Regions from separate parts of the Homo sapiens genome. Here region 1 is linked to region 2. Evidence: fine-mapped expression QTL. Tissue or cell type: blood mononuclear cells. Region 2 holds a variant in brackets; the other region holds the start of a gene. All regions are shown on one strand. Distances are from middle to middle. Region 1 holds the start of TRIQK (triple QxxK/R motif containing). Region 2 has its middle 26 kb from the start of TRIQK.

Region 1 (16,168 bases), 26 kb after region 2:
CTTCTCCCACTTTGCACCAAAAATGTTATCCTTACTAATGTTTTCCTTACTCCCACTTTGCACCAAAAATTTTATCCTTACTAATCTTGACTCTGCAGAAGCTGGATCACCAAAGTCAACCTTTGTATATCTTTTAATAGTGAAATGATATCAGTGCAAGCTAAATAATTTGTTTAGCCCAGGACAAAATGAAAGTGTGTGGCCCGTTGTTTAAAAAAATTTAAAAAAAAGTAAAATGTGCCATCAAAGGCATAAGACAGAAAACGTTTTATTGCTTTCTTCCAAAGTCTCTCTGAAGTTATCGTGGTGTTTTATACTTGCTATTTAACGCTGCTCTAAGTAGAGAAATTAAAATTTTTCATCATAAGTGTGATTGCTACTGTTCACCTTCATTTTGTGCAATTGCAGTTCTAAACAAAAATATAAGAACATTTACTGATATCCAGAATCACTGAAATTACATAGTTCATATTTCATAGCTCATATATGCATATGTATATTGTTGTTACTGAACCAGTAGAAACTGCAAAAAATACCAACTCAAAATTGTTCTTATTTCATTTCTTGATATGCACACATTCTACCAATACTCAATGGAAACAAAACAAATGACTTTGATAACAGGCTTACCTCACATTTGCTTTGAGTCTCGCCGAACTCTCACCTATGATGGGTCCATCAGAATTCTGTGCTCACGAGGCACCATGAACTCTATGTGCAAGTGAGATCACAAGAAATAGTAGAGAACTTACTGTGAATATCTCTTCTGCTCATGCACACGCTTCATTATCCCATTAGACTGAACTTACAAAAAATAAGTTCAAAGATAAAATTATTAAAAATTTCAGGACAGCAATAGTAGATCATTAAACAAACAGGGGAACCTTCTGACCATGGGTGTTGTGGGCCTGTACAGTTCTCATACCGTGAAGCTGGCCCTGAGTGACAGGTCTTGAAACACAGTAAAGATCAGCTGGAAGTTGTGGCTTTTGTTAAGGGCTCAGCACTGCTTAGCCTTCTACTTAGTGGGATTGGCCTTATCCACTCTTCTACTTCACTTTCCTGTGTTCTTGGCCCGGGTGTGAAAGATAGTGTTGTTACCCTCCTGGATGGGGACATGCCAAATGGCATAATGCCAAAGCAAGTAGAAAGTTGGAGCTAGGCAGAAAACTGGGGGGTGGTGTGAAGGAGGAGCACAGGGCACTACTCTTAGAACATAATATTAAATGAATGCAACATTGATGATTCTCAGCATAACAATATAGATTGTTACCTCTAGAATAACCACAAATAAAATAACAAAAAGAATATAGCTAAAGAACCATTAGAAGCACAAACTGGAAGTCTAAACATTTTTGACTAAAGCAAATAAAAAAAGGAAAGTATAAATGGAGGAGAAAGGTAAAAATGAAAAATAAAAAATACAAAGAAAAATGATAGACTTATACCCTTCATATTAATAACTATGTTACATGGAAATTGAATAAATATTTTTATAACAAATCAAAGATTGTCAGACTGGAAAAAATGCAAATTCAACAATATATTGTATACAAGAGATAGAGCTATAAAGGCATAGATAGCTTAAATGTAAAGGCAAGGAAATGGATCTAGTAGAAACAACAGGCATAATACATCTAATCTAAGATTATTAATATCAGGCAAATATTCTTCACCACCAAGTATAACCAGAGATAAAAAGGTCAACATTGCATAATGATAAAAGTGTTGATTCATCAGGAAATCATAATAATTCTAGATGTGTATGAGCCTAGTAACAGACCTTCAAAATATATAATGAAAGAATTAACACAACTAAAGAAAATATAGTTTGAAGTTGGATACCGTGATGCCTCTAGCTCTGTTCTTTTTATTTAGGATTGTCTTGGCTATATGAGCTCTTTTTTGGTTCCATATAAACTTTACAGTAGTTTTCTCTAATTCTGTGAAGACTGTCGATGGTAGTTTAATAGGAATAGCATTGAGTTTGTAAATTACTTTGGGCAATATGGCCATTTTCAGGATATTGATATTTCCTATTCATGAGCATGGAGAATGTTTTTCCATTTGTTTGTGTCCTCTCTGATTTCCTTGAGCAGTGGTTTGTAGTTCTCCTTGAAGAGGTCCTTCACATCCCTTGTTAGCTGTATATCTAGGTATTTTATTCTCTTCGTAGCAATTGTGAATGGAAGTTCATTCATGATTTAGCTTTCTGCTTGTCTATTGTTGGTGTATAAAATTGCTTGTGATTTTTGCACATTGATGTTGTATCCTGAGACTTTTCTGATGTTGTTTAGCAGCTTAAGAAGCTTTTGGGCTGAGACAATGGGGTTTTCTAGCTACAGGATCATGTCATCTGCAAACAGAGACAGTTTGACTTCTCTCTTCCTATTTGAATACCCTTTATTTTTTTCTTTTGCCTGATTGCCCAGGCCATATCTTCCAATACCATGCTGAACAGGAGTGGTGAGAGAGGGCATCCTTGTCTTGTTCCCTTGTGTGTGTAACTTTAAACTATACTACAAGGCTACAGTAACCAAAGAAGCACGGTGTTGGTACAAAAACAGACACATAGACCAATGGAACAGATAGAGAACTCAGAAATAAGACCACACATCTACAACCATCTGATTTTTGACAAACAGGAAAAAAACAAGCAATGGGGAAAGGATTCCCTATTTAATAAACAGCGCTGGAAAAACTGACTAGCCATATGTAGAAAACTGAAACTAGACCCCGACCTTATACCTTATACAAAAAATAATTCAAGATGCATTAAAGACTTAAATGTAAAACCCAAAACTATAAAAACCCTAGAAGAAAATCTAGGCAGTACCATTCAGGACATAGACATGGGCAAAGATTTCATGACAAAAGATCAAAAGCAATTGCAACAAAAGCAAAAATTGAAAAATGAGACCTAATTAAACTAAAGAGCTTCTGCATAGCAAAAGAAACTATCATGAGTGAAAAGATAACCTACAGAATGGGAGACAATTTTTGCAGTCTATCCATCTGACAAAGGTCTAATATCTACAATCTACAGGGAACTTAAACAGATTTACAAGAGAAAAACAACCCCATTAAAAAGTGGGCAAAAGACACGAACAGGGACATCTCAAAAGAAGACATCTATGTGGCCAAGAAACATATGAAAAAAAGTTCAACATCACTGATCATTAGAGAAATGCAAACAAAACCTATAATGAGATACCATTTCACACCAGTCAGAATGGCAATTATTAAAAAGTCAAGAAACAACAGATGCTGGTGAGACTGTGGAGAAATAGGAACACTTTTACACTGTTGGTGGAAATGTAAATTAGTTCAACCATTGTGGAAGACAGTGTGGCAATTCCTTAAAGACCTAGAAGCAGAACTGCAGAACCACCATTCCACTCAGCAATCCCATTGCTTGGTATATACCCAAAGGAATACAAATCATTCTATTATAAAGATACATGCATGCGCATGTTCATTGCAGCACTATGCACCATAGCAAAGACATAGAATCAACCCAAATGCCCATCAATGATAGACTGGATAAAGAAAATGTGGTACATATACACCATGGAATACTATGCAGCCATAAAAAGGAATGAGATCATGTCCTTTGCAGGAACGTGAATGGAGCCAGAAGCCATTACCCTCGGCAAACTAATGTAAGAACAGAAAACCAAACACTGAATATTCTCACTTATAAGTGGGAGCTGAACAATGAGAACACATGGACACAGGGAGGGGAACAACATACACAGGGACCTGCTAGGGGAGGATTTGGAGAGGGAGAGCATCAGGATAAATAACTAATGCATGCTGGGCTTAATATCTAAGGGATGGGTTGATAGGTGCAGCAAACCAGCATGGCACAAGTTTACCTGTGTAACAAACCCACATATTCTGCAAATGTATCCTGGAACCTAAAATTTAAAAAAAATTAATTTTTTTTAAAAAAAGAAAATATAAACAAATGCACAAGCATAGTTGGAGATTTAACACCTTTCTTTCAATAAGTGATAGAATATGCTTAAAAATGTTGGTAAGGATCACTATGGCATATGTATACCTAAGTAACAAATCTGCACATTCTGCACATGTATCCTAGAACTTAAAGTAAAATGAAAAAATAAAATAAATAAATAAAATGTTTTTAAAAGCAAAAAAAAAAAACTGTCATAAGATATAGACTATAATCAACATTTAGAGCATACTGCATTCCATAATTTCAGAATACACATTTTTTTTCCAAATACACTGAGAACAGTCATAAAGATAAACCATATGTTGGGTTATAATATATGTGTCAATAATTTTCAATAAAATTTGAAATATTACAATATATATTTTCTAACTACAATGGAATTAAAAGTCAATAACTGTAAGATATTAGACAACTCTCAAATACTTGGAAACACAGAAACATAATTCTAAATATGTAACCAAAAAAGAGCCCATATAGCCAAGAAAATCCTAAGCAAAAAGAACAAAGAGGGGCATCATGTTACCTGACTTCAATCTATACTACAGTAACCAAAACAGCATGGTACTGGTACCAAAACAGATATATAGACCAGTGGAACAGAACTGAGGCCTCACAAATAACACCACACACCTACAACCATCTGATCTTTGACAAACCTGACAAAAACAAGCAATGGGGAAAGGATTCCCTATTTAATAAATGGTGTTGGGAAAACTGGCTAGCTATATGCAGGAAACTGAAACTGGACCCCTTCCTTATACCTTATATAAATATTAACTCAAGATGAATGAAAGACTTAAACGTAAGACCTAAAACCATAAAATCCCTAGAAGAAAACCTAGGCAATATCATTCGGGACATAAGCATGGGCAGAGACTTATAACTAAAATTCCAAAAGCAGTTGCAACAAAAGCCAAAATTGACAAATGGGATCTAATTAAACTGAAGAGCTTCTGTATAGCTGAAGAAATTATCATTAGAGTAAACAGGCAACCTACAGAATGGGAGAAACCTTTTGCAATCTATCCATCTGACAAAGGGCTAATATCCAGAATCTACAAGGAACTTAAACAAATTTACAAGAAAAAAACAAACAACCGCATCAAAAAGTGGGTGAAGGATATGAACAGACACTTTTCAAAAGAATACATTTATGCGTCCAATAAGCATATAAAAAAAGCTCATTATCACTGGTCATTACAGAAATGCAAATCAAAACCACAATGAGATACCATCTCATGCTAGTTAGAATGGTGATCATTAAAAAGGCAGGAAACAACAGATGCTGGAGAGGATGTGGAGAAATAGGAATGCTTTTACACTGTTGGTGGGAGTGTCAATTAGTTCAACCATTGTAGAAGACAGTGTGGTGATTCCTCAAGGATCTAGAACCAGAAACGCCATTTGACCCAGGAATTCCATTACTGGGTATATGCCCAAAGGATTATAAATCATGCTACTATAAAGACACATGCCAACGTATGTTTATTGCAGCACTATTCACAATAGCAAAGACTTGGAACCAACCCAAATGCCCATCAATAATAGACTGGATAAAGAAAATGTGGCACATATACACCATAGAATACTATGCAGCCAATTATATTTCAATTTGCTAGAAATGTAAGTCAATAATATATGTCTTTATATGGTAAAGAAATAAGCATATAACATACATCTGGAAGTTTTAATTTTACATTAAGCTATTTACTTCTTGTTGTATAATATCTTACATATGTGAGAATATTCAATGCATTTGCTGTACAAATGCATTGCTGTACATCTTTATGTAATGAAAATGGACTCAAGTACATTCACCACTTTTATTTAAATCTTACAGCATTTATTTATATATTTATTAATATATAATCATAACTCTTTCTTTTTAGTCTAAAACTAATTTTTTTTTTTTTTTTTTTTTGAGATGGAGTCCCACTCAGTTGCCCAGGCTGGAGTGCAATGATGCAATCTCGGCTCACTGCAACCTCTGCCTCCCGGGCTCAAGCAATTCTCCTGCCTCAGGCTCCTGAGTAGCTGGGATTACAGGTGCCTGCCACCATGCCTGCCTAATTTTTGTATTTTTAGTAGAGACGGGGTTTCACCATGTTGGCCAGGCTGGTCTGGAACTCCTGACCTCAGGCAATCCGTCCACCTCAGCTTCCCAAAGTGCTGGGATTACAGGCATGAACCACCACACCTGGCCAAACCAAATATTTTTAAAAGATTAAAGAAAATGGGGACTCTGAGTCATACAAATCAAGAAAGTTTTATAGAGAGTTATTCACATTTAGCAAGCTTTCAGAAGAATTTGGATATTCAGCAGGTCAAGAGTGTAAAATTATTTGTAATTGGAATGGGTTTCTTTTATTCCAACAATTGCATCACAGTACGATGAACATTTTAATTGAATCTCAAGGCACTTGTCCAGAGGTACTCTTTTTTTTTTTCTTTTTTCTTACTACAACCGTATCTATCAGACAAGATAAACCCTTCTGGGTTTTGGTTTAATATGGAAGGAAAAAGAGTTTCACTATTTTAAAGCCACACACATAAGTAATCTGGTTAAGTGTATTAATATAATCTCATTTAACTCTACCTTTATTTCTGGGAGAGGAACTGGAGACCAGAAAATGATTTAGGAGGACGGAAAATAAAATTACATTTTGGATTCAATTCCTGGCCATAATATTCTGTGAGATTTCAGAAAGCCTTCTGGTTAGTCTATTTATACTTGTCTCAGTTTTTTTTTTTTTTTTTTTTTTGTATGCTACTTTCTTTCTCAAGGGCTTTTGGAAAAAGATATGATGGGGCTGGCCTAGAGGAAGGTGACTTTTATGTGAGCAAGAGAAAAATTAAATTGGAGGTTGCATAATTTTTTGAAGGAATTTTAGATTTAGTTCACCACAATATTAAAAAATGATGGCTGCAGGCACTTAGATTTGTTGAATGGTTGAATAAATCTAGCCTTTCCTAGCCTGTGTTTCATTGTCCATAGGCTGTGGATAATACTCTTAGTGGGTTTTGTAAGGATTACATGAGTATAATTTATAAAGCATTTAATATTTGAATACTTTTCCAATAAGTAACATCTTAATATTTCATTCCCATTTTGTAGATGTGAAAATTGAGTACCCGAACATAGGCTCCTAAATCCTAATTGTCAGTCACGTTTTTGCAATCTTTCCTAAATTTATTAATCTCTGGTTAATGTTAATATAAAACGATTTTTTTTTCTTTTTTGCTGTTTGAATGGGCAATTAATTGATTGTTTACACAGACAGTGCGCCCTTCCACTTAGGGACGCTCCTTAGGGATGATCCTGTGAATTGGGGAGTGTGTGTGTGTGAGATGGGAGGGTTCAATAATCAAAATAACATATTTTTCCGTTTTATATTAACTAAACAAGTCACAGTCTTTATTTTTAATTTCTACAGTCACCTCGTGAGACAGGTATTAGAACTCCGGAGTGGCATCAAAATGAGGGAAAGGCCTCAGGGCCAGCGCCTTTGCGTCCTGGACCGGCGTACAGACGGGAGAAAGGCCGACCAATCCGAGAGCAGGCTGAGGCCTGGTCCCGCCCCTGGGGGCAGAGCCTCGCCTCTTTTCCGCCTCACCCTTTGGGAGTAGGGGTGTGCGGCTGGCTTGTCCCGCCCCTGCCCCTGAGTGACAGAACCGTGGACAGCAACATTTCCCACAGGACACGAAGTTTGTCGGCCCTTGCCTTGGCAGAGCTGAGGTGTGTGTCCGGCGAGTGCGAGGGGATTGGGGAGACCCTGCCCGGGAAGCTCGGGGTCCGGGAATGAAAGCGGGCGCACCTCTTTAGCGAGCCCTAAAGCGTTTGGGAGACGATCGTTCCGTCCCTGGGAGCGGCACTTGGTGGGGCTGGGCGGAGGGAGGCTCTGCAAGAGAAACCCGGAGTCCGGGAAACCCAGTAGGTACGGTGATCACTGAAGGACCCGTTCCCGTTGAGTAGGGCGCTGGCTGCGGGATGGGGGATGGAGGGTGCTGGGTTCGGTGGGCGTGGCCATTGCGGTTGCTAAGGAACGCGCGGTTCCCGCCCTGCCAGCGTGTCTGGCGCCAGCCGCTGGGCCCTGGACACGTTAGTCCCGCCCACCTCCCAAGGTCTTCCACGCGGCTCGGGATTGGCTCCTTTGTGCTGACCGATTACTCGCGGTCGCTTACTTGTCAGTGCAGCTCTCTGGGTTCTGCCGTTCCCTTTTGGGGCCCCCTTTCCCATGGTACTCCTCTTCACTCTTTTTCCTGCTTCCTCTTATTAATGAACGAGTATTTGCATACCAAAACATTTGCAGAGAAGAGATTCAGACAGGATTAGGTGGCTTTATCGGTGGTGGTGAGGTTGTGGGGCGGGGGTATTTTTCTTGGAGCTTGGTGTATTCCTGAATCCATCAGATGTTGGTGTCCGCGTGGATGACTAGGAAAAGGGGATTGGAGATTAGGTTTCTTCTACTTGGAGTTCTCTGCTGCTTGTTTGAGCTTAATAAGCCTCCTGAAGAAGTTGAAGCAATTTATTGCTAGAGGAGCCCCAATGTATAATCTCCCTTTCATTCTCTACTGTGGAGAGGTGTGCTAAACCTGTAGAGCTGTTTTTGCTTCACTCGGCTCATACTTAATGATCAACAAGTATGGTGTGAGATGGTAACCTCAGATAACCATTTTAAATCTGCCTTTGTTTGCTCATATACTCTGTCTCCTAATGATTCAGCACAACAAACATTCCAGAGAGAAAAAACAAAAGAGGTAAAAATCTTTTATTTTCCTCTGGCAGGTTTACAGTGCAAACCCCCAGGAAGGAAGCTTGTGCTGCTTGTTAACATTGGGAGGAGCATTGGCCTACAAGTCAGGAAACTGGCATGGTTAAGAAATGTTTGTCCTTGGGCAATAATTGTTTCGTTATCTGTAAATTGGAGACTCTAGGATATGCCCTTCCTTCCTAAAAAAGGAGGAATAATTGGTTGTGAAAGTATCATTAAAGTAATGATCCACACAAATGTAAAGCATTATTGATTACACTTTTAATCTTTTTGTGTATATGATCCAAATTTATAAACACGTATAAGTATTGCCATTCAGCTTTAAGTATTTTCAAATTTCCCTTGTGATTTTTTTTTTTTTTAATCTTAGGGTTATTTAGAAATGGGGAAGAAATTAACTCATCTATTCATTATTGATTCTGTGTTGGTTCTGGTTAGGTAGAACCTGTAATGTCTTGAATGACACCTTTTCCTCTTTAATATCACTAGATATATATATATATATAGATATATATATATACCTGAAAAGATTGGGAAACATTACCTTTTAATGCGAGGATGACTAACCTTTTTGGTGTCATTTACCACTTTGAGAAACCAAGGAAAGCTATTGACTTGCTCCTCAGAAAAATGCACAATTTTAAGCCTAAATGGACCCTGTTTTTGTTCAACTTCTTTAGGGATAAGGAAATTATTCTCTCCCACTTGCCTCATCCTACAGAGAGACTAAGTAACTTTTACCCAAGGCTACATAGCTGGGAGCAGAGTGGGGCTTTTGCCTTTCTTCCACAGTGCCTCTTACCATAACATACCTTTGTTCAAGGCCTTCAGTCATCTGCAGTTCCCTTTTGGGGCCCCCTTTCCCATTGTACTTTTTTGTTTTTTTGAGCACTAACAAACGGGAACTACTAATGTTCAGTTATTTGTTGCTATCTTACAAAACCATGTAATCTATGTTTTATCCCAAATGCCCTTTGATCATAACCTCTTAAAGCATATTCTGGTATTTAAACAAGTAAAAAGAACATTGTCAAATATTTTGAGAAAAATGTGAAACTGTATTTTTTTTTTTTTTTTGAGACGGAGTTTCACTCTTGTTGCCCAGGCTGGAGTGCAATGGCGCTATCTCAGCTCACCACAACCTCTGCCTTCCTGGTTCAAGCAATTCTCCTGCCTCAGCCTCCCGAGTAGCTGGGATTACAGGAGTGCACCACCACACCTGGCTAATTTTGTATTTTTAGTACAGACGGGGTTTCTTCATGTTGGTCAGGCTGGTCTCGAACTCCCAACCTCAGGTGATCCGCCCGCCTCGGCCTCCCAAAGTGTTGAGATTACAGGGGTGAGCCACCGCGTCTGGCCAAAATTGTACTTTTGAGATGAACATTAAATCCATAAACTTTCTCATCTATCGAGGTCCGTTTTGGACAAAGAAAAGCTGATTATTTTTAGTACATGCCACTGGAATATCATTACTTGATACTTAGAACTGTTTTTTTTTTTTTAAACTTAAGTGAATAATCTTTTATAACATTTTAATTTGTGGCTAAAAAGAATTGTGGTTGTTTTCACTGTGGCTCTTTTCCTGATTTCTATATTCATATAGAAATCTGTAAATAGAGTTCATTATTTTCTTTGGTCTGATTCCCTATCTAGCTTTATCAATAAAAGTGGATATCAGTAGTAGATATAAAAAGTTGTTATTGGATAAGGAAAAACTTGAAGAGGTAAAGAGCTATTGCTTTTGTAAAACGCATAAATGTATATATGCACCTGTTATTTCGTTAGTACTTGTAATTTTATTTGAACTGTTTGGTACTTGACTCTTTCTTTATTCAACTCTGTTCATTTCTGGTAGAGAAACAGGGATAAAGACAAATGGCTTAGAGAGAGCATTACAATGGATTTAGAGATTTTTAGGGGCTCAATAATAGCTCTTTCCTTCCTCTCTTGCGTTTGTAAACAGACATGTGGCGCCTGCCATATCAACTTCAACTTGCAATAACAAGTCGAGTGGGGATAGTGCTTTATGCAAAAATGAGACCAAAAATGAGTACTAGTACTTCCTATCCCCTTTTACTCCTACTCTCTTTCCCAGAACCTAGACTTTAGTTCAGCTGAGAGAAAAATTTCAGATTGCGGAACAGATACGCTTACTTACAATTACTGCTTTTCATGGTGTAGGGCAGAGGTCTAATAAAAGATGGAAAATCTCCAGTGCTTAGTGGTTTATAATGGGTTAGCTCTACCGGTGGAGTAATGTGAACCGGTCAGATACGTCTCTTTTTGGTAAGCTGTGAAGAAGAAGTGGGATCTGAGGCCAGGACTGTTAATCTAGTGCTCTGGTTTTCCATTTCCAGAATGGTTTTCCATTCTGGGTGACACCTCTGGGGTATTTGAAATATGCCAGGGTGTTTTAAAATTATTCTAATTTCTTTAAAGGAAGTACTACTGGCTTTTGGGATCCTGAAGTTCAGAGATGATAAATATTGTGTAATGTAGAGATCTATCAGCTCAATAAAGAATTTCTTTGTCTCACTCCAATGCCAAAGCATCTTTTGAGAGTCCCTGCTCCAGTGGACATTCTTCTATGTAGAAACGCGAAACTCAGCCAGCTTTCTCCTTAATCTTTGTGCATATGTATCTGTGTTTTTGATATCAGTAGATTTGACTCAAAGTGTTAATGTCTTAAACAATATTACTTAGAATTTTGTGGTTTTTTGGTATTCATCCAGAGTGACTAAAATAATACTAATGGAAAATAGTGATACATATTTGATCATATTTGATATTCTCAAATTTCCTATTAAACAGATAAGGATCATGTAGGCCTAGAGCTAATTTTTCATACCATTATATATATTTATACCTTTTTTATATGGTAGAAATGTTCAGCATCTTTGCAACAATAGAGTGAGATAGGTGTATGTTTCCATGAAAAATAAATGATTCCTACTTAATTCGTAATTTTGAAATGTTAAACAATAAAAAGGTAAATACTCCATATTCAGTGGTTTAACAGTTTTTTTGACTCAAAAGGCAAAGACAGTTCCATTAATGAAAGACTCTTGTCAGTCACATGACTTTTAAGCCACTGAAGTGGAGAATGACAACAGCATAAACTAGCTTAGTTCTTCTGTAGTAGTATTATTTAGTGACGTAGTTGCAAAAATAACAGACCAATTGTATTGAACAATTTAAAAGTTTGACAATGACAAAAGAAAGATAGGTTAATCCAAATAACATTTGTTTTACATACTTTGAATGTTAAAATATTCAAATATTGCAGGGTATGGAATAATGAACTATATGGATACCTGTGGCAAAGTCCTAATTGTGGATTATAGTTTATTACCTATAGCAGGTGGAAGGTGCACTGTATTGAAAGTTTTAGACTTAGCTCTGTAGGTAGAAATATCCTTTGTTGGGTATTAATAACTTTCCAGTCAAGTTAATTATCTATGTGGAAAAGGTTGAAGATTTTTCTTTTTTTTGAACAACATGCTTGAGCATTATAATACGTTGCCGTCATTCACAGTGACTCAGTATATAGTACTGAATCTCTCTGGGCAGAGGAGGTATATCAGATTTTTTTTTTCAGGATGGGAAGGTACAGTTTTAAAAAGAACCTCCCAGTTTCCGATTCTGCTTTGTCTGCATTCCTAGGGAGTTCATTTTCTGCCTCCCCTCAACACCGTCCCCTTTATCGATAAATGGAAAACACTGGCTTATGTAGAAATTATCTATACAGTTTTTTCAGTGCTAAAATATTCTGGATAAATTAACATTTGAAAATAAATCAAGTGAAACAAGACATCCTACAAAATCAAGGCAGAGGTTATCAGTAGAAAACTCAGAGGCATACCTATGAATCTCTAAAAATAATTTTAAGCTAAGGAAGGAAGAACATTTCGGGGAGTTATTTGCCGTCCAACACATTCAAGAATACATGGCTTCTATGGATAGGAGAACTTCATGTAAAAATAACAGACAGTGATGAAGTGTCAGAGAGAAGATAGTAAGAGAAAACAAAATGATGAGAAACTGAAAATATGAGAGCCGTATCAGTTTTGTTCCTCTTATAACACATTACCCCACATTTAGTGACTTAAAATAACACAAATTTAGTATCTGACAGTTCTGTGGTTCAGAAGTCTGATATAGGTCACTTTGGGCTGAAATCAAGGTCGGGACAGGGCTGCATTCCTTTCTGGAGGCTCTAGGAGAGATGGTTGGTTTCCTTGTCTTTTGTAGTTTCTGGAGGCTGCTCACATTCCTTGGCTTATGGCCTCCTTCTTCCAACGTCAAAGCCAGCAACATTGCAGCAATCTGACTTATTTTGTTGTCATGTCTCCTGACCACATCTGGAAGGGTTATCTACTTTTGAAGACACATCCAGATAATTCAGGACAATCTGTCCATTTTGAGGTTCTTCATTGAATCATGTCTGCAAAGTCCCTTCTGCAATCTAAGGTAACTTATTTGTAGGTTATGGGAATTAGGACTTGAACATTTTTGGATTGGGGGAACATTATTTTGCCTATCACAAAAGCATTAAAAATCTATATTTGAGGCAGTAACAAATAGAATTGATGTCGTTGTACAAAGTTTAGTCGGTGTAGAGAATAGATTTGAGAGGTTATTTTAGTTAAAAAATTGGAAATCATAAAAAGATGATATATGGAGAATAAAGAATAGAGTCCACTGTGTGGATATTTGGAGTCTCTGAAAAAGAGACAAGAAGATAGATACATAGATAGATAGATAGATAGACAAATAGTTGTTCCTGAAGAAAAGAACAGAGTATTTGAAAGAAAAATAATTTTAAAAATAAATAGGAGAAAAAACTTTCCTGAGCTGAAAAAGACCTATGAAGGAAGAAAGGGCCTTTTTTATGTAAGGCATGACAACTTAAAGAGACACAAAAATCACAAAATTGTCAAATTATGATGATAAAGAAAATAAATGTTTTCCATATCAAGAAAGAAAAGAAAAAAGCATGTTATTAGGCTGGCCTCAGACTTCTTTTCTGTAGTATGAAATGCCAGAAAACAACAGAGCAACATGTTTATAGTTAAAAAAATTCCCAGGCAGTTTGTAATTCTTGTGTGATGGCAACAGAAAACCACTCTTACGTATACAGTCCGTCCCTGATTTACAATGGTTTGACTTATGGTTTTTCAACTTCATGATGGGTTTATCGGTATGTAACCCTATCATAAGTTGAAAAGCATCTGGACTTAAGATGGTTTGATTTACAATATTTCAATTTTACTATGGGTTTATTGGGGTATTAAATGCATTTTCGATTTAAGATATTTTTCACCCACGGTAAGTTGAGGAGCATGTGTATAAAGGAATCTAAACTACTTCGTGTTTCCTTTTGAGGAAAAAGACCCGAAGATACCAGCTTATTATGAGATAATGCAATATCAACACAAAAGCCATTTTGTGTGTGTGTGTGTGTGTGTGTGTGTGTGTGTGTGTGTGTGTATGCATATATATAACTGATGGTATACCCCAGACTTTAAATAGTTTTGTTAAATATAGCTAAAAATTGACTGCTAATATAAAACATTGTTTGCATGAGAAGATAATACTACACAATTAATTCAATAAGAACGACCTAGATTTAAATAAAATTTTGTGAACTTCTGACTCATTTATGCCAGAGAGGAAACCTGATAATCCAAGAGTATGAATAGATTAAAAAATATCCCCAAACCATTGAATAGCAAACTACGACCAGCAAGCCAGATCTGGCTCACCTTGTGTATCCTATGATCCGTGAGCTTGGAATGGTTTGTACATATTTAAACGGTTGAAAAAAATCAAAAGGATAATGTGGACATGGGGAAATTATGTAAAATTCAAATTTAATTGTTTATAAATAAAGTTTTATTAGAAAACAATCACGCTCATTTGTTTATATGTGATGTGGAAATTATGTAAAATTCAAATTTAATTGTTTATAAATAAAGTTTTATTAGAAAACAATCACACTCATTTGTTTACGTATTGTCTATGGCTGCTTTTACAGTACAATACAATACAGCAGAGTTGTGTAATTGCCGCAGAGGTGCACATGAGGCACTTTCATTGCCTTGCTCTGCATCTCAGCACACTAAAATCATAGTCACATTGTTATAATTTGATTTTCCCTCTTGACATCCAAAGCCTATAATATTTGTATCTAGAAAGCAGAAGAAGTTTTCCAACTCCTGACCTGAATTGTAAGACATAGTGTACTTTTCTTTTCAGTTCAAGGGACTCAGATTTATTCAATTTTTGCCCTTCAGTGTTTGACTTACCCCAGCATCTGTTTGGTCTTATATGGGTTAAGGTTAACCTCAGGAATCTATTATTATTTGAATTTTATAATCCACATCTTCTCTTTTCCATCTCTATTCCATAAATGAAACAAAATTCATGTAAATATTTTACAGTTTTATTTCCAAAGATGAAAATCAGGTAATATCTCAATATTATAATAAGAAATAATGGATACTATTATATGCCAAAAATCTAGATGTTTATAGAGATAAGTATGTACAATATTTAATAAGTGAGTTATGAGTTACATATCAATCAGATAACCAAAGATTTGTCCAGCAGGTATAGGTGACTTGTACAGAGAAAGTACGTAATTGATTGAAATGGGGTCTTGAAGGGTGCCTATGAATTCAAGTTAGACAAGGCTAGGGCTGAGCAACATTGAAATAAGTATAATAAGATTTGTAAAGCTATTAAGCTGTCAATGGGTTCTTGTGATTGGAAAATCAAAAGAAGTTTAGTGATTGGGGCCTAATCTAGAGAAAAGTGGCTAGAGTTGAGGCAGTATGAACCTGCTGGCAAAGGCTGAGGAGGCTCTTATATGACATGCAAAACTATTTGCATCTTGGAGGCAATGAGGATCCATTTCAGGTTTTCAAATGGAGAGCAACATGATCAAATTGGTATTTTGAAATGGTTCTGAAGCTTTTTCAAATACTGTACCACACTTTCTAAAGTTCTTTAATTCTATGATTATACTTTCATGGAATAAAAGTTGTACTGAGGTATACACAGGTTTTCCTTTAAGGGGGAATATATAAACAATCCCCTAGTTACCCTAGGAACTTACGTGGTAGGTAAACTTATGTGAGCAGGCTGTTAAATAAACGTAAATCATTAAACTTTTTTAGAATATTAAGAAGTTACTTATAAAGTAAAAACGTAATCTGTTCTGGCTTCTCCTGAGTAGATAGAACTAACTGCTTTAAGACAAAACATAATGTATATGCTTGCATACTGCACCCCAAAAACTTTATGAAAGTTTGAGATGATAGAAGTTTAGTTATAGACCACTTGAATATATTTAGATTTTCTTTGCTTAGATATTTAAAACCAATGTTTAAATTAACACTTTGCATTTCTT
Region 2 (16,168 bases):
CATCAAATACAATTTGATCAAACAAAGTCTCTGAAAAACCATTAGTCTTTATCAAAAGAACAACAAAATGCTGGTCAACAATGAAAATAATAAATTATTTATATTACTTTAACACTCAGAGGCAACAATTCCATTTCTGGCCTGTGCATCAGAAGATGAAGAAAGTTAAATTAACGAAGTCCACAAATTGGGTCAGGAAAATGATTTTTTTGGAGATTCACTGTTTCTTGGTTGATGACACTGGAACATGGCCATTAAGACCTTCTGAATTCATACACCATTTCTAACAAAATGTGATCTGGTTTAAACGAGTAGTCAGAATATTCCATTTGATAATTACCAAATTTCTGTAAAATGGATTAAAAACTTAGAGTAATTAGTATATATGTTCAGAGACTACGTGTTTTTTAACTTTGCCATAAATTTCAAATTCAACAGCCAAGTCTGTCCTTAGCTAATAGATTGAAACAGTTGGGTTTTCAATAAAAATATTAAAAACAAAAGAATTCAAAAACCAATATGTCATTTGCACAGAAAAACACAAGCCACTACTGGAACTGTAACATAGGTTTAATAAACAGCAATAGCTAGTATTCAACAAGGGCAAGTAAACACTTTATTAAATGTTACCAAAATCTTTGTAAATATTAGCCTGGAACAACCTGAAGTTGGAGATAATGTCTGGTTTGTTCTTCACTGTATATTCTACACCTCAGATATCTGGAACATAGTAGACACTAAGTAAATATTCAATTGTGTTTGGACAAACCATGCTCTTTCATGACCCTACAACTTAGAATCTGATAGTCCTACAAGTCCATCTCCCTCTACCAGAGAAATATTTCCTTTCCTACCTGAGAGATTTTCTAATGGTCTTCAAAGACATTTTTGTAAATCATTCCCTAACCTCTGAAGTGTTCTTTCTTTGTTGCTCCCAGAGTCCCCTGGTCTTTACATATTAAAAATATTAGGCTGTCCTGGAAATGTTGTCTTATTTGTCTGACTTCACCACTAAAGTATGAGTCCCTTAAGGTTGTCATTTCATTTTTGTAGTCCTTATGCCTAAAATAGCAACAAGAGTAGCCCCTTTATTTTTTCAAATGAATAAAAACTAATGAAATTAACATTTTATTTGAGATATTAATAAAATTCATTTTCTAAAATGCTACTGTAATTACATACTTACCTACAACTCATCTAATGTTATACATTAAATACTTGTCCTTTTCACCAAATGGGGGAGTTTTGTTTCTATACAGTCTTTGATGAGATATAAAATGCATACATTTGAAACTATTGACTTAATTTAATTTTCTGCCTTTGTACTGTGCTAACACTAATCTCTTAAGAAATTTTCCAATTTCTTTCAGTAAACTGTTCTATTATCAAACAATCTTCTCTGCCAAATTGTCTTTCTTAAACGAAATATAAATCCCTCACACTAAAGCTTAAACCCATTTCCATTTCTCTCTTTTTTATTATAACTGAAAATTAATGGAAAGAATTAAAATGAATACAAAAGAGAGTTAAAATATATCAACATTAAGCTAAATATTTAATATTTGATTATATAATGTAACCATTAATTATTCATTCATTTATCCTACAAACATTTACTAAGAGTTCACTAAAGGTCAAGTACTGTGTTGGGTCTTTAAAGTCTTAGCAGAAAAAAGTTTAGCCTTGAGGCTGACTGAGCATTTATACTGTTTTCATTTGTATTAATTGCTCTTGTTTCTCATACTAATCATATACATACAGAAATATATTATTTCTGTAAATATTAGGAAAATCAATAATGTAATTAATAAATTTAGTTTAATGAGTACCATAACACTTCTAAATTTCACTTTGTTTGATTTTTGTAAGTGTTGTCTTACAGTTTGAAATCTTATAATAATAAACTTTCTATTATTAGAACTTGAAAGGTGCTTAAAATTAAAATTCAAATTCTTTACATTTATGGATTTTAAAAAAGCCCAAAGGTGTTAAGTCAGAACTAAATCCAGTTCCCCTGGCTCATTCATTTGTTCCTTTTCATTAATTCATTCATTCACTCAATTATTCATGCACTGATTAATTCATTGATTGATTCATGCAACAAATATATATCAAAGTGCACTATGTGCAGGTGCTAGTGCCTTTTTCAGTGTCCTCAAATTTGCTCACTAGAGCTTACAACATCAAGAAAATATTCTTCAATGTTTCAAAATCTACGAGTAAATCACAAATGTCAGTTCTCACTATTGCTGACTATGTAAGGACAGAAATTGAGTTGCATTTAAAATGACGTAGTGCAGTTCACTTTAACAACCCCACCCCTGACACAGACACACATAAATTTGTAACCTAGATATCTCAAAGTACTTTGTAACCTAACGTCCTAAATCCTTTAGCCTTCTGAGGTTGATAGGGTTTCGGTTGCCCTTTCTTTTAATATGCAAATAATATCTCACATGTACTGTAAAAAGTCCAACAAGATCCATAATATTTTTGAAAATTTCCTAAAGTACTTATTTCCTTGTTCCTATGCACAGTCTGAATTCCTAGTGCCAGTATGTTTATTGTGCCTGGTGCCCACCACTGTCTCACTTTCTGTGGACCTCCTCTCTCAGTTCCTCTCTACCCAATCATTAATTCCTTAGAACATCACTAGCAAAAGGCTTTTATTTGTAACATATTCTACTGAAAGCTTGCAGGAAGTGAAAAGAATTACTACCCTAGTACTAACAGAGAAACAATGTATGATTGAGTATTGGTCATCATAAATTTTCTAGTCACCTTCAACACAGGAATTTCTCAGTGGACACGAATGTCCATGGGTCTCACTCTGCCTGTATATTGATTACTCCCCACTTCACTGAGGTGATTCTCCCATTCTTTACTTCCTCCACCAACACTTTTTTCTGCTTGCTAAGATTTCTGTAATTTATTTTGAAGAGTAAACTATTTTTCAATATCTGCGATAGTCTTAACCATGGTACTATCTATACACACTTACAAAGACTCCTTATTAAACTTCCCAAAAGAAGAGCAGTCTACCCAAGCTCTAATCCTTTAGTAATAATAAAACAGTAGAAGCTCCCTAGAATTTAGAAAGGGTTAGGATCACTTATTTCACTATGTAATATGTTAACATAACCATTCAATATTAATAGATAACCAGTATTGAGATATTCAAAGAAGAATTAATTATAGTTTATAATATCAAGGTGATTACAGTCTCTGAGTTCATGTCACTTCCTTTATTAGCCATTTTCTTAACAACTATTCAATTCACATACATATAGCCACTTGCTCCTTAATGCTCAACACTATTCCTCACATATGCCTATTATAGAATCTATGAGATATTACACACAATTTTGCTTACATGTCTTGATTTATGGTTCAATGCAGTAGGCTGAACAATTGAATTTAACTTTTTGAACTTATTGAAATAACTAAAAATACATAAAATTAAAATGCCATGAGAACATTGGAAAATAAAAGTACAATTGAGAGACCAGAGAATTTAAACTATTTTGAAAGAATAGAAAACAGAATGGAAGACTTACACCAAGTGTAGTGCTGGAGATGTAGCACAAAAATTATGCAAATCTTGCAGACCACAAAAAAGAGTTTAGATTTAATTCCAAGTACAATCAAAAGTCATTGAAATATTTTAATTAAGAAAGTAAAAATCATTTTATTTACATTGATAAAATCTCACTCAGGGAGGTTCTAAAAACAAATGGCATTCTAAACTGGTGAGAATGAAGATCAGAGTGGCCTCCGTCTAGTGCCTCAACAGAGATCTGACAGTTGGTAGTTACATATCACTTTCTCACAAGAAGCCAATTATATCTATTCTATTATTCTTAGAATTCCCGTCACATGACTATCCCGGGAAACCTGACATAGCTACTAAAGTTGAATAAAAATCATGAGTAGATGAATGAAAACATTGATAATGCTAAAGGAATGAAGCAGAACCCTTAGAACAGATGGCCCCTGTGAACTAGAGCTGTAAGATGTGACACATAACCGTGTTCATCAACTTCAACAAACAAAATACTAAGTCCCTTTAAGTAGAGTCAATTATAACATATGTTTGACTTTCTGGAAGAAACATAGATAATTTTTGAATTAAAAAATTATTAGTAGCTGACTTGAGGGAAGATGATCACTGTTGTGAACCAAATCAGTGAATGGAAAAGAAGGGTAAAACTACTTCAAACACAGAGTGAAAATAAAATGTGAAAAAAAATAAGATAAATGATAAAAATCTCATAGGATAGACCCAGAAGACCTAGCATAAGTTAAAAGAAAAAAATGGAAAAATACCTTGATTTTAATAACAAAGACCCTAAAGATTGAAAAGGCTCACTGAATACCAGGCAGGGTAGATGGGGAATAAAAACACACATATTCTGACAAGATTCCTGAAATCTAACAATAAAGAGAAAAATGCAGAAGCTCATAATCAGAAAGAATAAGTTAAAAACTAAAGGATAAAGAATCAGAGTGGCATTGAACTACTTATTCATAGCACTGGTAACAAGGGAATAGCGGGATAACAGGCATTAAGATAATAAGAGAGTAATCAGAAAATTCTATACCTAGCAAAGACATAATTCTCAGATCAAGACATAAAAAATGACATTATGGATATGCAAGGACCTAGAAAATATAGGTGATCTATGTGAGAAAAACTCTCCCCTAACAAATAAGGAATGAATTATAAACCAGATCCCTCCATAAAAGTAGAATAGCAAGGAAAAATACAATGAGCAATAAATCTTTCAGTAGAAATAGTTTAGTGAATATATTTAATAATATTGTGACTGTGAATTAGTAACATAACTGATAAATACAGTTTTTTTTTAAGAGAAGGAACATATTGTAATGGAAAATCAACAGTACTCTAGAATAAAAGTTCTAAACTCTGTTTAGAAGTTTGTAGGGGGAAACAAGGAGTTTGTAGGGAGAAACAACAAAAATCAAAAGTGTTCTAAGGGATTTATTTTGACAGGAATTGGAGCAATAAGGCAGTGGATAAATAGAGTAGTATAAGGTCAGAGGTGGTATCTGGTTTGATGTAATATTATAAAAATATATATTGGATTGAGTGTCAAGAATTGGAAGAAAGAGAAGGACCAGGACTTGTAGATTAACAAAGTTAAAACTGGAATAAGTAACCTAGTAAAAAATTAGAAAAAGGAAAAAGAAGAAACAATAAAATAAATTAAGTGGTAAGCATACATAAAAATGAAAATAATAAACAATTATTTAAATTGTTCCTCTAAATATGAATGGACTGGATTTTTTCTATTAGTGCAGCAGTTGTCAGCCTTGGAGGAAAAAAAATTATGTGATTTTTAAAAAATAAAACACATTTGAAACAAATAAATTTTTTAAAATGTTGAAAAAAAGGAGTAAGCAGATAGACACTAGGGATATATAGATAAGCAGATAGACACTAGGGATATATAAATAAAAGAAGAGCAGTCAGGGAAGTATAAATATAGAAGGTGGAATTTAAAGTTAAGCTCAGTAAGACAGAACAGAGAGAAATACTATGTGATAGTAAAAGGCATAATTTATGAAAACTTTAAACCTGTATACACGATACAATATTAACTAAAACTATTAAAAAGAAGATAGTGCACTAAATTTTCATGGAGATTTTAATATACCTCTTTCAAAATTGCACAGAGTTAGTGTACAAAAATAACTAAGGGCTCTTTAGTCAGTTCTGTGCCATCCACACAAGGAGAAACAGGAATAGTCTTTGTGGTTCCTTTCTGGTTCTTTCTGCCCTTGTTCCAACTGCCCGAGGAAGTGTACCATCAAGAGGAGTAGGTGGAAACCTTTGCCTCCCAGGAAGTTTGCCTAGTCTTTTATCATCAATATCTCTTACTCGAATAAGGAAAATAACAAACCTCTATTGTTTCTGATACCCTGGACAAGATTTGCCATTAAAGCCTAATAGACAGTTCCAAGTTAGATGGCTAGTCATAAAGAACTAAAGGTAGACATCATTCTCGATCTCCCAGACTGATCCTAACTCTTGCAGACACGGGAATTGGCATGATCAAGGCTAATACCATCATAATAGTTTATCAACTATTGCCAAGGTTTTAGGGAAGCTTTGCCCACCGGTGCAGATATCTCCATGATTGGATGGGTTGGTGTTGGCTTTTATTCTGCCTACCTGATGGCAGAAAGTTGTGCTCACTAAGCACTGAAAATGAGCAGCGTATCTGGGTGTTTTCTGCTGGGGACTCCTTCACAGTCTGTTCTGACTACAATGAACTTATTAGCCTGTGTATCAAAGTGATCTTTATCTTCAAGAAAATTAGACTGAATACCTAGAAGGAGGCTTGTCAGGAAGCAGTGAAGATGCACCCTTGTTTCACTGACCATCTCATTGCTTTTTCTTTGGAGAAGAAATGAAAGAGGAAAGCCAGAGATGAGGAGACAGATGAGAAGAATAAGAAAAAGGTGAGCTAGGAAAGAATGATGGGGATAAGTCTGAGATTCAGATAGGGAAGATAACAGTGACAAGCACAAGGGAAAGAAAACAAAGTAGATTAAAAAGAAAAATGTTGATTGGGGAAAGCTGAATAAAACTCACTTCATTTGCACCAGAAACCTGGATGACATGATCCTGGAGCCTTACCAATGATGTAACAGCCTTACCAATGACTGAAAAGACC[A/G]GTAGAAAATCAAATAGGTCTCTTAGAAGATCCTAGAATTCAGGATATTGATGGCTTCTCTTCATAGGTTCCTTTTGACCTCTTTGATTGGAGTGTATGAAAGAAGAGTGGAAATTGAAAGAAATAAATCTCAATTCTTCTCCTGACTGGTTGTTAATATGAGTAAATGAATCAGTCTCTTCATAAGTTGAGCTAGTTTGGAATTTTGTCATTGGTGTCACCATTTCAGTGCACTAGGACTTCAAATTCTTCCAACAATGGGGTGCTCTTCTTTGGCTTAATGAGGGTTCTGGGGTGCCGGAGGTTTTACTCAGTCTTCTGTTTCATTCTCAGCTTTCAGCAGACCCCACTCAACTGCCCCACAGAGGAGTCTGTCTTCATGGTCTCGCAATAAATAGCAAGCTCTTGGAGTTCTCAGTTCTCTTGATCCTGCCTCAGCCTCAGGCTGGCCCTGTGCTTCTTGGCCTCAGAGGTGCGGCTTTAACAGCATTCCTACACCTCTCCTTGTGGCAGCCAAACTGTGTCATCTCTATGTGAAGTCTTGGGCCTGAGACAGTATCCTGGCTTTCTCTCAGACCCCTACTTGAATCAGTGCAGGAGTTTGGCTCCTCTCCTCTCCCATGAGCAGATGACCTTTGTCTCTCACCCCTACTGGTGCTATTGCACCTTTGCCTGGCACTGTCCAGTGGTAGACTGATATTGTTTGTTACTAGTACAAGGCTCCCGGTAGAGGCAGGAAGATCTTCCTCCCCTGTCCTCAGAGGCAGAGGGTTTTGCTTCTACCTCTCCCTCAGGAGCAGTCCATCTTTGCTCTTCCTCCTCCTTCAGAGGCAACTTCCATTTCTCCTCCACTCCCCCAGGAACATTGCCTGGGTCCTGGGGGCAGGAGTTTCCTGTTTCTCTCCCAGCAGTGGATTGCTTTTGCTTTGTGTAAGTCAGAGAAGGGTACAAGCAGAGTTTCATGCCTCTGTGCCACTGAAAGGACTCCCTAGAGTCTTTTGCAATGCTCCCAATTATTATCATTATTTTGAGACAGTGTCTTGCTCAGTCACCCAGGCTGGAGTGCAGTTCTTCCATTTGTTTGTGTCCTCTTTTATTTCGTTGAGCAGTGGTTTGTAGTTCTCTTTGAAGGGGTCCTTCCCATCCCTTGTAAGTTGCATTCCTAGGTATTTTATTCTCTTTGTAGCAATTGTGAATGGGAGTTCACTCATGGTTTGGCTCTCTGTTTGTCTATCGTTAGTGTATAGGAATGTGTGTGATTTTTGCACACTGATTTTGTATCCTGAGACTTTGCTAAAGTTGCTTATCAGCTTAAGGAGAATGTGGGCTGAGACGATGGGATTTTCTAAATATACAATCATGTCATCTGCAAACAGAGACAATTTGACTTCCTCTCTTCCCATTTGAATACGCTTTATTTCTTTCTTTTGCCTGATTGCCCGGGCCGGAACTTCCAATACTATGTTGAATAGGAGTGGTGAGAGAGGGCATACTTGTCTTGTGTGTTTTCAAGGGGAATGCTGTCAGCTTTTGGCCATTCAGTATGATATTGGCTGTGGGTTTGTCATTAATAGCTCTTATTATTTTGAGATACATTCCATTAATACCTAGTCGACCCCTGCTGGAAGGTGTCTCCCAGTCAGGAGGCATGGGGGTCAGGGACCCACTTGAAGAGGCAGTCTGTCCCTTAGCAGAGCTCAAGCACTGTACTGGGAGATCCACTGCTCTCTTCAGAGCTGGCAGGCAGGAACGTTTAAGTTTGCTGAAGTTGCTCTCACAGCCACCCCCTCTCCCAGGTGCTCTGTCCCAGGGAGATGGGAGTTATATCTAAAAGCCCCTGACTGGGGCTGCTGCCCTTTATTCAGAGGTGCCCTGCCTGGAGAGGAGGAATCTAGAGTGGCAGTCGGGCTACAGTGGCTTTGTGGAGCTGCGGTGGGCTCCGCCCAGTTTGAACTTCCCAGTGGCTTTGTTTACACTGGGAGGGGAAAACTGCCTACTCAAGCCTTAGTAATAGTGGACCTCCCTCCCCCCACCAAGCCAGAGTGTTCCTCGTCAACTTCAGACTGCTGTGCTGGAAGTGAGAATTTCAAGCCAGTGGATTTTAGCTTGCTGGGCTCCATGAGGGTGGGATCTGCTGAGCTAGACCACTTGGCTCCCTGGCTTCAGCCCCCTTTTCAGGGCAGTGAATGGTTCTGTCTCGCTGTCATTCCAGGTGCCACTGGGGTATGAAAAAAAAACTCCTGCAGCTAGCTTGGTGTCTGCCCAAATGACCGCCCAGTTTTGTGCTTGAAATCCAGGGCCCTGGCCTAGGCACCCAAGGGAATCTCTTGGTCTGCGGGTTGCAATGACCATGGGAAAAGCATACTACCTGGGGCCGGAGTGCACCATCCTTCATGGCACAGTCCCTCAAGGCTTTCCTTGGCTAGGGGAGGGAGTTCCCTGACCCTTTGCACTTCCCAGGTGAAGCGACTTCCCACGCTGCTTCAGCTTGCCCTCTGTGGGCTGCACCCACTGTCTAACCAGTTCCAATGAGATGAGCCGGGTACCTCAGTTGGAAATGCAGAAATCACCTGCCTTCTGTGTTGATCTTGCTGGGAGCTGCAGACCGGAGCTCTTCCTATTGGGCCATCTTGCCAGCGACAACTACGTGATCTTCTTTAATTTAAAAACCAGTAATATAGACAGGTTTGGCAAGTGTAACCAAAAAAATACAAAGAAAGCACAAAAATAAAACACAGGAAATGAAAAAGGAGCATCACAGCAAAAATAGCATCCACATTAGTATCATAATTGACTGGAATTCTTAGAAAAGCAGATGTTCTGGTTAATTTAATTTTCTTATTAACTGACAAAAAGAAGCTCCCGATTCTTGAGAAAATCTTTATGACAAGCATTTCTTCTTGTGTTGTTTTAATAACCAATGTGAAGAGCATAATATACTGTTTCTTTGGTGATTCCAGCTTTATAGTTCCATCTTACCTCATTCTGACCATTACGGAATGTTGTTATAACAATACTTTATTTTTAATCTATGTTTTTATAAATTGCTTTTTTATGATCTTTGTTATGAAGTTTTAGTATTTTTTTAAATCACTTATTAGTAACTCTTTATTAAAGTCATTAATCTCTGTGGCAATCTTCTACTACTTGTTATGTGCCTTTTAATTCTCTGATTTTTTTTTAAACAAATGAGGTTTCTGTAAAAAAATCTTTTACGTAGTCAAATGTGTCAATACATTCTTTCATGATGTCTTCACCTACTTTTATGCTTAAATGCAGTGGTCCCAATCTTTTTGGCACCAGGGACCAGCTTTGTGGAAGATAATTTTTCCATGGACCAGGCTGAGGGATGGTTTCAGGATGATTCAAACGCATTACATTTATTGTATACTTTATTTCTATTATTATTACACTGTAATATATAATGAAATAATTATGTTACTCACCATAATGTAGAATCAGTGGGAGCCCTGAGCTTGTTTTCCTGCAACTAGTTGGTCCCATCTGGGGGTGATGGGAGACAGTGACGGATCATCAGGTATTAGATTCTCATAAGGAGTGTGCAACCTATATCCTTCACATGGGGGGTTTCCAACAGGTTCGAGCTCCTATGAAAATCTAATGCTGCAACTGATCTGACAGGAGGCAGAGCTCAGGCAGTAATGCAAATGATAGGGAACAGCTGTAAATAGAGATGAAGCTTCACTCACTTGCACATTGCTCACCTCCTGCTGTGCAGCCTGGTTCCTAAAAGATCACGGACTGGTACTAGTCCATGGCCTGAGGGATGAGAACCCCTGCTTAAATGGTTTTGATTATTCAGGTATTCTGACATATTTTATTCTAGCCCTAATTTCTTCTATGGTTTAGTGTTAACGTTTGATACACCTAAAATTTACTTTGATTTTGGGAATGAGCTGTGGTTCTAAGTTGACTATTTTAAAATAAAACATATTTATAGATTAACCCCTCCATTCCTGATATGCAGTATTATCTTTATCACATATTAAATTCTCATGTCTACAGGGTTTGTCAATGGCTATCTGATTTATCCATGTATTCTTGCATCTGTAACCCACTAATTTTCTTATCTTTTCTTGTTATTTTTCTGAATAAAATTTAGAATAGTTTTTGCATACCTGCTGTCAAAAATAAATAAAACACTGCCATGTTTTAGTTGGAATGAAGCTAAAACAACAAAAAGGAAGGAAGGGGTGAACATTTTTATGATATGCAGTTCAATATATATTTATTATATAATATTTCAAGGTCTGAGAAGTTAAATAAGATATAATCCCTGATGTCGAGAAACTTATGTTCAACAAAATTTGCTAATTGTTAAGAGAGATAAGTATCCTTTGATGTAATGAGATAACAAAACTGATATGCGGGCCAAACAAAGGATCTTGGAAATCTGCAATCTTCTGAGTTGACCAATTTTTTAAGTAAAAATGTTATGCAAGTACATGTTGAGGGTTAAGTAGAGCAGAGATAATTTCATATCAAATAATTTAGGAGATGAGTGGAATCACTGATCAAATTGTAACACTTGAAAATGAAATCGAGTTTATGATTTCTAGCACGAGAGTAGAAAATAAATTTAGCAAACCAATATAGTACCCTACCACATTTAAATGTCAGAAAAAGTGGCATAAAATGTAAACACACACATACATACACAAACATACATACTTTTCTTTTCATTTAATTTATCCATCCTTTTTCGACAATAAATATTATGAGTTCACCTTTTGGGTATAATAATTTAAGAAAGTATAGGCTGGGTGCAGTGGCTCACGCCTGTAATCCCAGCACTTTGGGAGGCCGAGGCGGGTGGATCACGAGATCAGGAGATTGAGACCATCCTGGCTAACACGGTGAAACCACGTCTCTACTAAAAATACAAAAAAAAAAATTTAGCCGGGCGTGGTGGTGGGCGCCTGTAGTCCCAGCTACTCAGGAGGCTGAGGCAGGAGAATGGTGTGAACCCGGGAGGCGGAGCTTGCTTGCAGTGAGCCGAGATCGCGCCACTGCACTCCAGCCTGGGCGACAGAGCAAGACTCCGTCTCAAAAAAAAAAAAAAAAAAAAAAAAGAAAGTATAAAGTATGAACTAAAACTAAAAACGACGATTATGTCATCTAAAGATGATACAACCATGTACCCTATCTGCATCTGTATCTGTGTCTTTTGTATCTATATGCGTATTTCTATCTCTTCATCAATATCATTATTGAGATCTTAGTAAATATTCTGTTTATTAGCTTGAATTTTTACTTGAGAAACTATCCCCATGTTTTTAAATATTCTTCAAAAACAAGATTTTAATACGTGCATAGTATCCTAGAATATGAATGTATCGTGAAGGTCTTTGCATTAAAATTAGTATAAATAATTTTTCTAATAATCATTTTGAGAAAATTATAATTTTCTTTATTTTGATGAATCATATATTCACCCACTACAATTTTGATTATTATTTACTATGCTAAGCAATTACTTCTGGTAATAGCTCACCAATAAACTAAGCTGCTTCTTAAGACTGCTAGTATTCAAAGACAATAATAGTACCCATTCATTCTATGTTTGTGCTAATTATGTAGGAGAAACCCAAATGCTTATCATGTAAAACCAAATGACATACACACATATAAGCCTATACATTAAATAACTCTCTGTAGAGTTCCCATTCTCTGGAGGAAAACTAATTCTCCTTTTAGTTGGTTTTTAAGAAACTGATGAATACATTCTTTGGAGAATCTAGAAAGCTTCTGACATCTGCTCATAATTTTAGATTTACAGAGCCATCTCTTGAAAGCATCAGTCACTGTACTACAAGGTAGAGGCAGAAGTGGACTTTCTGATAGAATGTCACTTAAGTAAGTCAGTGGCTGATGCTTCAATGGCCTATGTGATGGCATTATTTTCTTAAAAAAGAAAACACTTTAATTAGTATTCCAGACTTGATTAGATTCAGGGATGGTGACCATAGTATGTTAAATTATAAGAAATGAAAAATTCTGAAAGACAATTTACATTTCAAATTAAAATGAGAAATAAAACTTTATAGCTGACCATTTCATTTATTCCTATTAGGAAAACATCTGGGGAAACAGGTCTGTTACTTGGGTAGCTTGTCATGTGTCATGTCCTGATTTATAATACTTTCAAGATATGATTTCATTTCTTTTATTTCTAGATTATTAGAGGACAACCATCTTAACTATCATCCTTAGATGGCACCCAATTATTTCCCTTTACAGATGTGTACGTCTCTGCACATTCACCCTCAGCCTCCAATCTCTGTATTTGGGAATGAATCATTGCAGAACATCGATTTTGCCTTCTTTAGCATGACTACAATGAAACAAATTTTATCCCTACTCTTTTATTCTGCATGTATAAAATAAGAAAGTAGAACTAAATGGGAGATTTGGCCCCGAGAAAGTATTTCACTAAAAGTAACTGAAAAGACTTCTAGTCTTCACATGTTCTGTATTACAGAATTATCTAGAAAGTTGTGTGACTCACAGAACATGAGTTATAAAGGTGTATTGTCATTAAATCAGTGTAAAATTCTCATGGTAAATTAAGTTGTGATTATTAGTAGCTAAAGATTTGATGAAAAAGATATTCTTGTTTATTCCTATAAATACATTTGCTAATTGTACTAATTTCTGGGTTCAAATATTTTCCCCAAATGGTTGCATTTTGTCTGTAGAAGAAAAATCTTTGAAGTTAAAGGCTTTTATGTGAATTTCAGATGAAGCATGTGTCTATTTGTTAGTCACAAAACAATATGAAACAAGATAATATTGCATTGATGCTTGGCAAAATAATGTGGTGCCTTTCAAGAACTTGCAAAAAAAAAAGTTTTCTTTATAGGTTATCCTATGTAATACATGTTAGTATACATGAAGTTATACTCGATTCTGGCAGAGATATGTAAAATCATCTTAATAGATCCAAAATAATCACAGCCAAATTCTGCTATACATTCAAATCACTCAACTGGTGCCTCCCTGTGATTGAAGGCCACAAACACCTTTCTGGTAATTGACATTGCATGTAATTAATATATAGGGAAAAATGTGCTAGTCAAATAGAGGAAAGTATCTGGTACCCTTAACAACTTTAATTAGTCGTTGTAAATTATTAAGTTCATGCTTTGGCTTTATACATCAGTGTTTATGAACTCTGGCAGTGTGTGACAATATTGGATTCTTACTAATTTTGGTAAACTGAAAAGTCAAGCTTCCTGGCCTGTAAATATGAAAGGATAGGATCCATCTATCATATCTGATCTTATTGACAAGAGCCTGGGCACAAAATGTGTAATACAGTTTTTTAACAACAATTACATCGGCAACAAAAACTCATTTTACAAACATTTTATTACTAAAAAGCATGCTTCAGTCAAGTTTACCAGAGGTTTTATGACAACCTGGCCTGGTGAAACCTTGAAGGATTTAAGACATGTCAGCTATGTACAAACAATAAGTATATGGGATTGTTTGACTTTGGCTTCCAATAGCAGATGGCAACTGAAAATACAGTGAAGCTAAATCTCCTCTGATGTCTCTACACTAAGCTATCCCCCAATTTTTTGTACCAGGAATAGATATGTTCATTAATTTCACCTACACCATAGTATATGATGGTAGCTACTAGGAAATCAAAAAGTAGAAGAAGAAACAGTGGGTGGAATCCAGGAGCTAGGAGGAATGGAATTCATGAGGAAAGGAGAAGTTTCCATAGCCACTGACTAAATAATGAGCAATAATTTTACAGACATTCCCTCTCTTCTTCTTCTCTCTCTGTGTTTTGTGCATGTGCATGTGCATGCGTGCGCGTGCACACACACACACACACACAGATAATCTCACATATAAGCCAAAACAACTATGTGTTCAAGAAATGGTCTTTAACTTTGAAGCACAATATGGTCATTCAAAATCAATCACAGTGTCATTTGACTTTGAAACAAAGAAAACAAATGAAACAAACGTATAATAGTATCAGATTTCAGTCTAGGAAAATAATTAGGACAATAAGTTTATTAGCTTTAGAAACATCAAAGGCTAAGATAAATTTTTCATTAAAATTGCAAGAATAAGGAATTTATTCTTAAATTTATCTCAGAAGTAACAAGAGCTGCATTATACACAACAGTTGAGTATTCTTTTTTGTGGTTTCCAGATATTATGGAATATGAAAACACACAAAATGTCTATACAGTCAAGATAACCTGTGGAAAAATAATGAAGACAGTGGAGGAAAGGCAAAATGGTAAAGAAGAGAAGAGAGAGAAACAAAATAATCATTTTCCAGCCTACCTAAAATAATAACCTGGACTTTCATAAAACTGGCATATCTTCTGTTTTACATGGAAAATTATTTTATCTTAAGTTTCCATTTAGTTGATTAAAAATAGGGTTATGAATGTTAAATAAGTGATGATTTATTGCAAAGGAAATATGTTTCGAAAGGTCGAATAATGTCTGTAACAATAAAAGGCAAACTAAATGATTTTCTGTTTTCAATCCTTTGATGAATAGTTAGATTAAGTAAGACCTATATTATGCTTTCTTTTTTATTCTCATATCTAAATAATGCTTATGACCAACTGAACTCACACTTTTCAGATCCCTGTCCAACTTGACCTCTAGAAACACTTTTTTCCCCCTTGACATAATCTGAATCTTTGCCTTTCAAATCCTTGGCTCGTGTAATGGTAGGATCTGGTTCACTGTGATGACTTCATACTGTTTTTATATCATAACCTATTTGGACTCTGTCAGTATAAGAAAGTGTTAAATAAACATAGATTCCAGCTGTATAACACATGTGAAATTCAAATATATGCCTGACATTTAAGCAGCATTATTTGCACAGGGATGCTAATAGACTTGATGAAGACAGGGCAGAGTGGTAATGGAATGCCAAGTCAGTATTATAGTATATTTTCAACCATCTTTCATTAGCAAAAATAATGCCTCTCACTTCCTAATTTATAAATACATTTTCATGTATTATCTCAATTTAGCATTCCATTTCTGTGATTTAGACAAATAGATATTTTTCACGTAACCGAAACTTGGAGAGGTCGGAGTGACTTGACCAAATTTACAGAATTAGGCATAGGAATACAGCACTGAACTAAAACCTGTTGAGCTGAACTGATTAGCAAATCCCAAACCATTCTCATGTTTATTTTTCAGTTTAAGCAATAATTGTATGTTTATTTTGAAGACCATAAGAAAAGAGTGTGAAAAAACTTAAGTGAGGAAATTGAAAAGTTCAGTGGACTCTCGCCCCTTATCCTGGCACCTGATCAAACCACATCTGTGGCAGAAATGACACTATGTGTTTACCAATTTCTTTCCACCTTAAACACACAGATTACATCTGCAAGCCTCCCCTCTCCCAGTAAGTGAGAACATGTGACTGAGTTCTGGCAAATACAATA

The links.
Region 1: it holds the start of TRIQK, and the variant in region 2 is fine-mapped to the expression of TRIQK in blood mononuclear cells (TOPMed, PIP 0.98). The same link has a PIP of 0.9 or more in whole blood.

Annotation. Positions count from the first base shown.
Region 1 is chr8:92,957,557-92,973,724 of GRCh38, reverse strand. TRIQK (triple QxxK/R motif containing) reads left to right here and starts at 7,581. Exons shown (of 5, transcript NM_001171797.2): 1 at 7,581-7,718. It also overlaps the pseudogene IRF5P1. RefSeq lists a silencer at 7,485-7,594 and an enhancer at 8,265-8,374.
Region 2 is chr8:92,983,627-92,999,794 of GRCh38, reverse strand. It overlaps a transcript of TRIQK not described here. Among named protein-coding and RNA genes, the nearest start is that of TRIQK, 26 kb to the right of the region's middle. The variant A/G (reference allele first, on the strand shown) is at 6,702.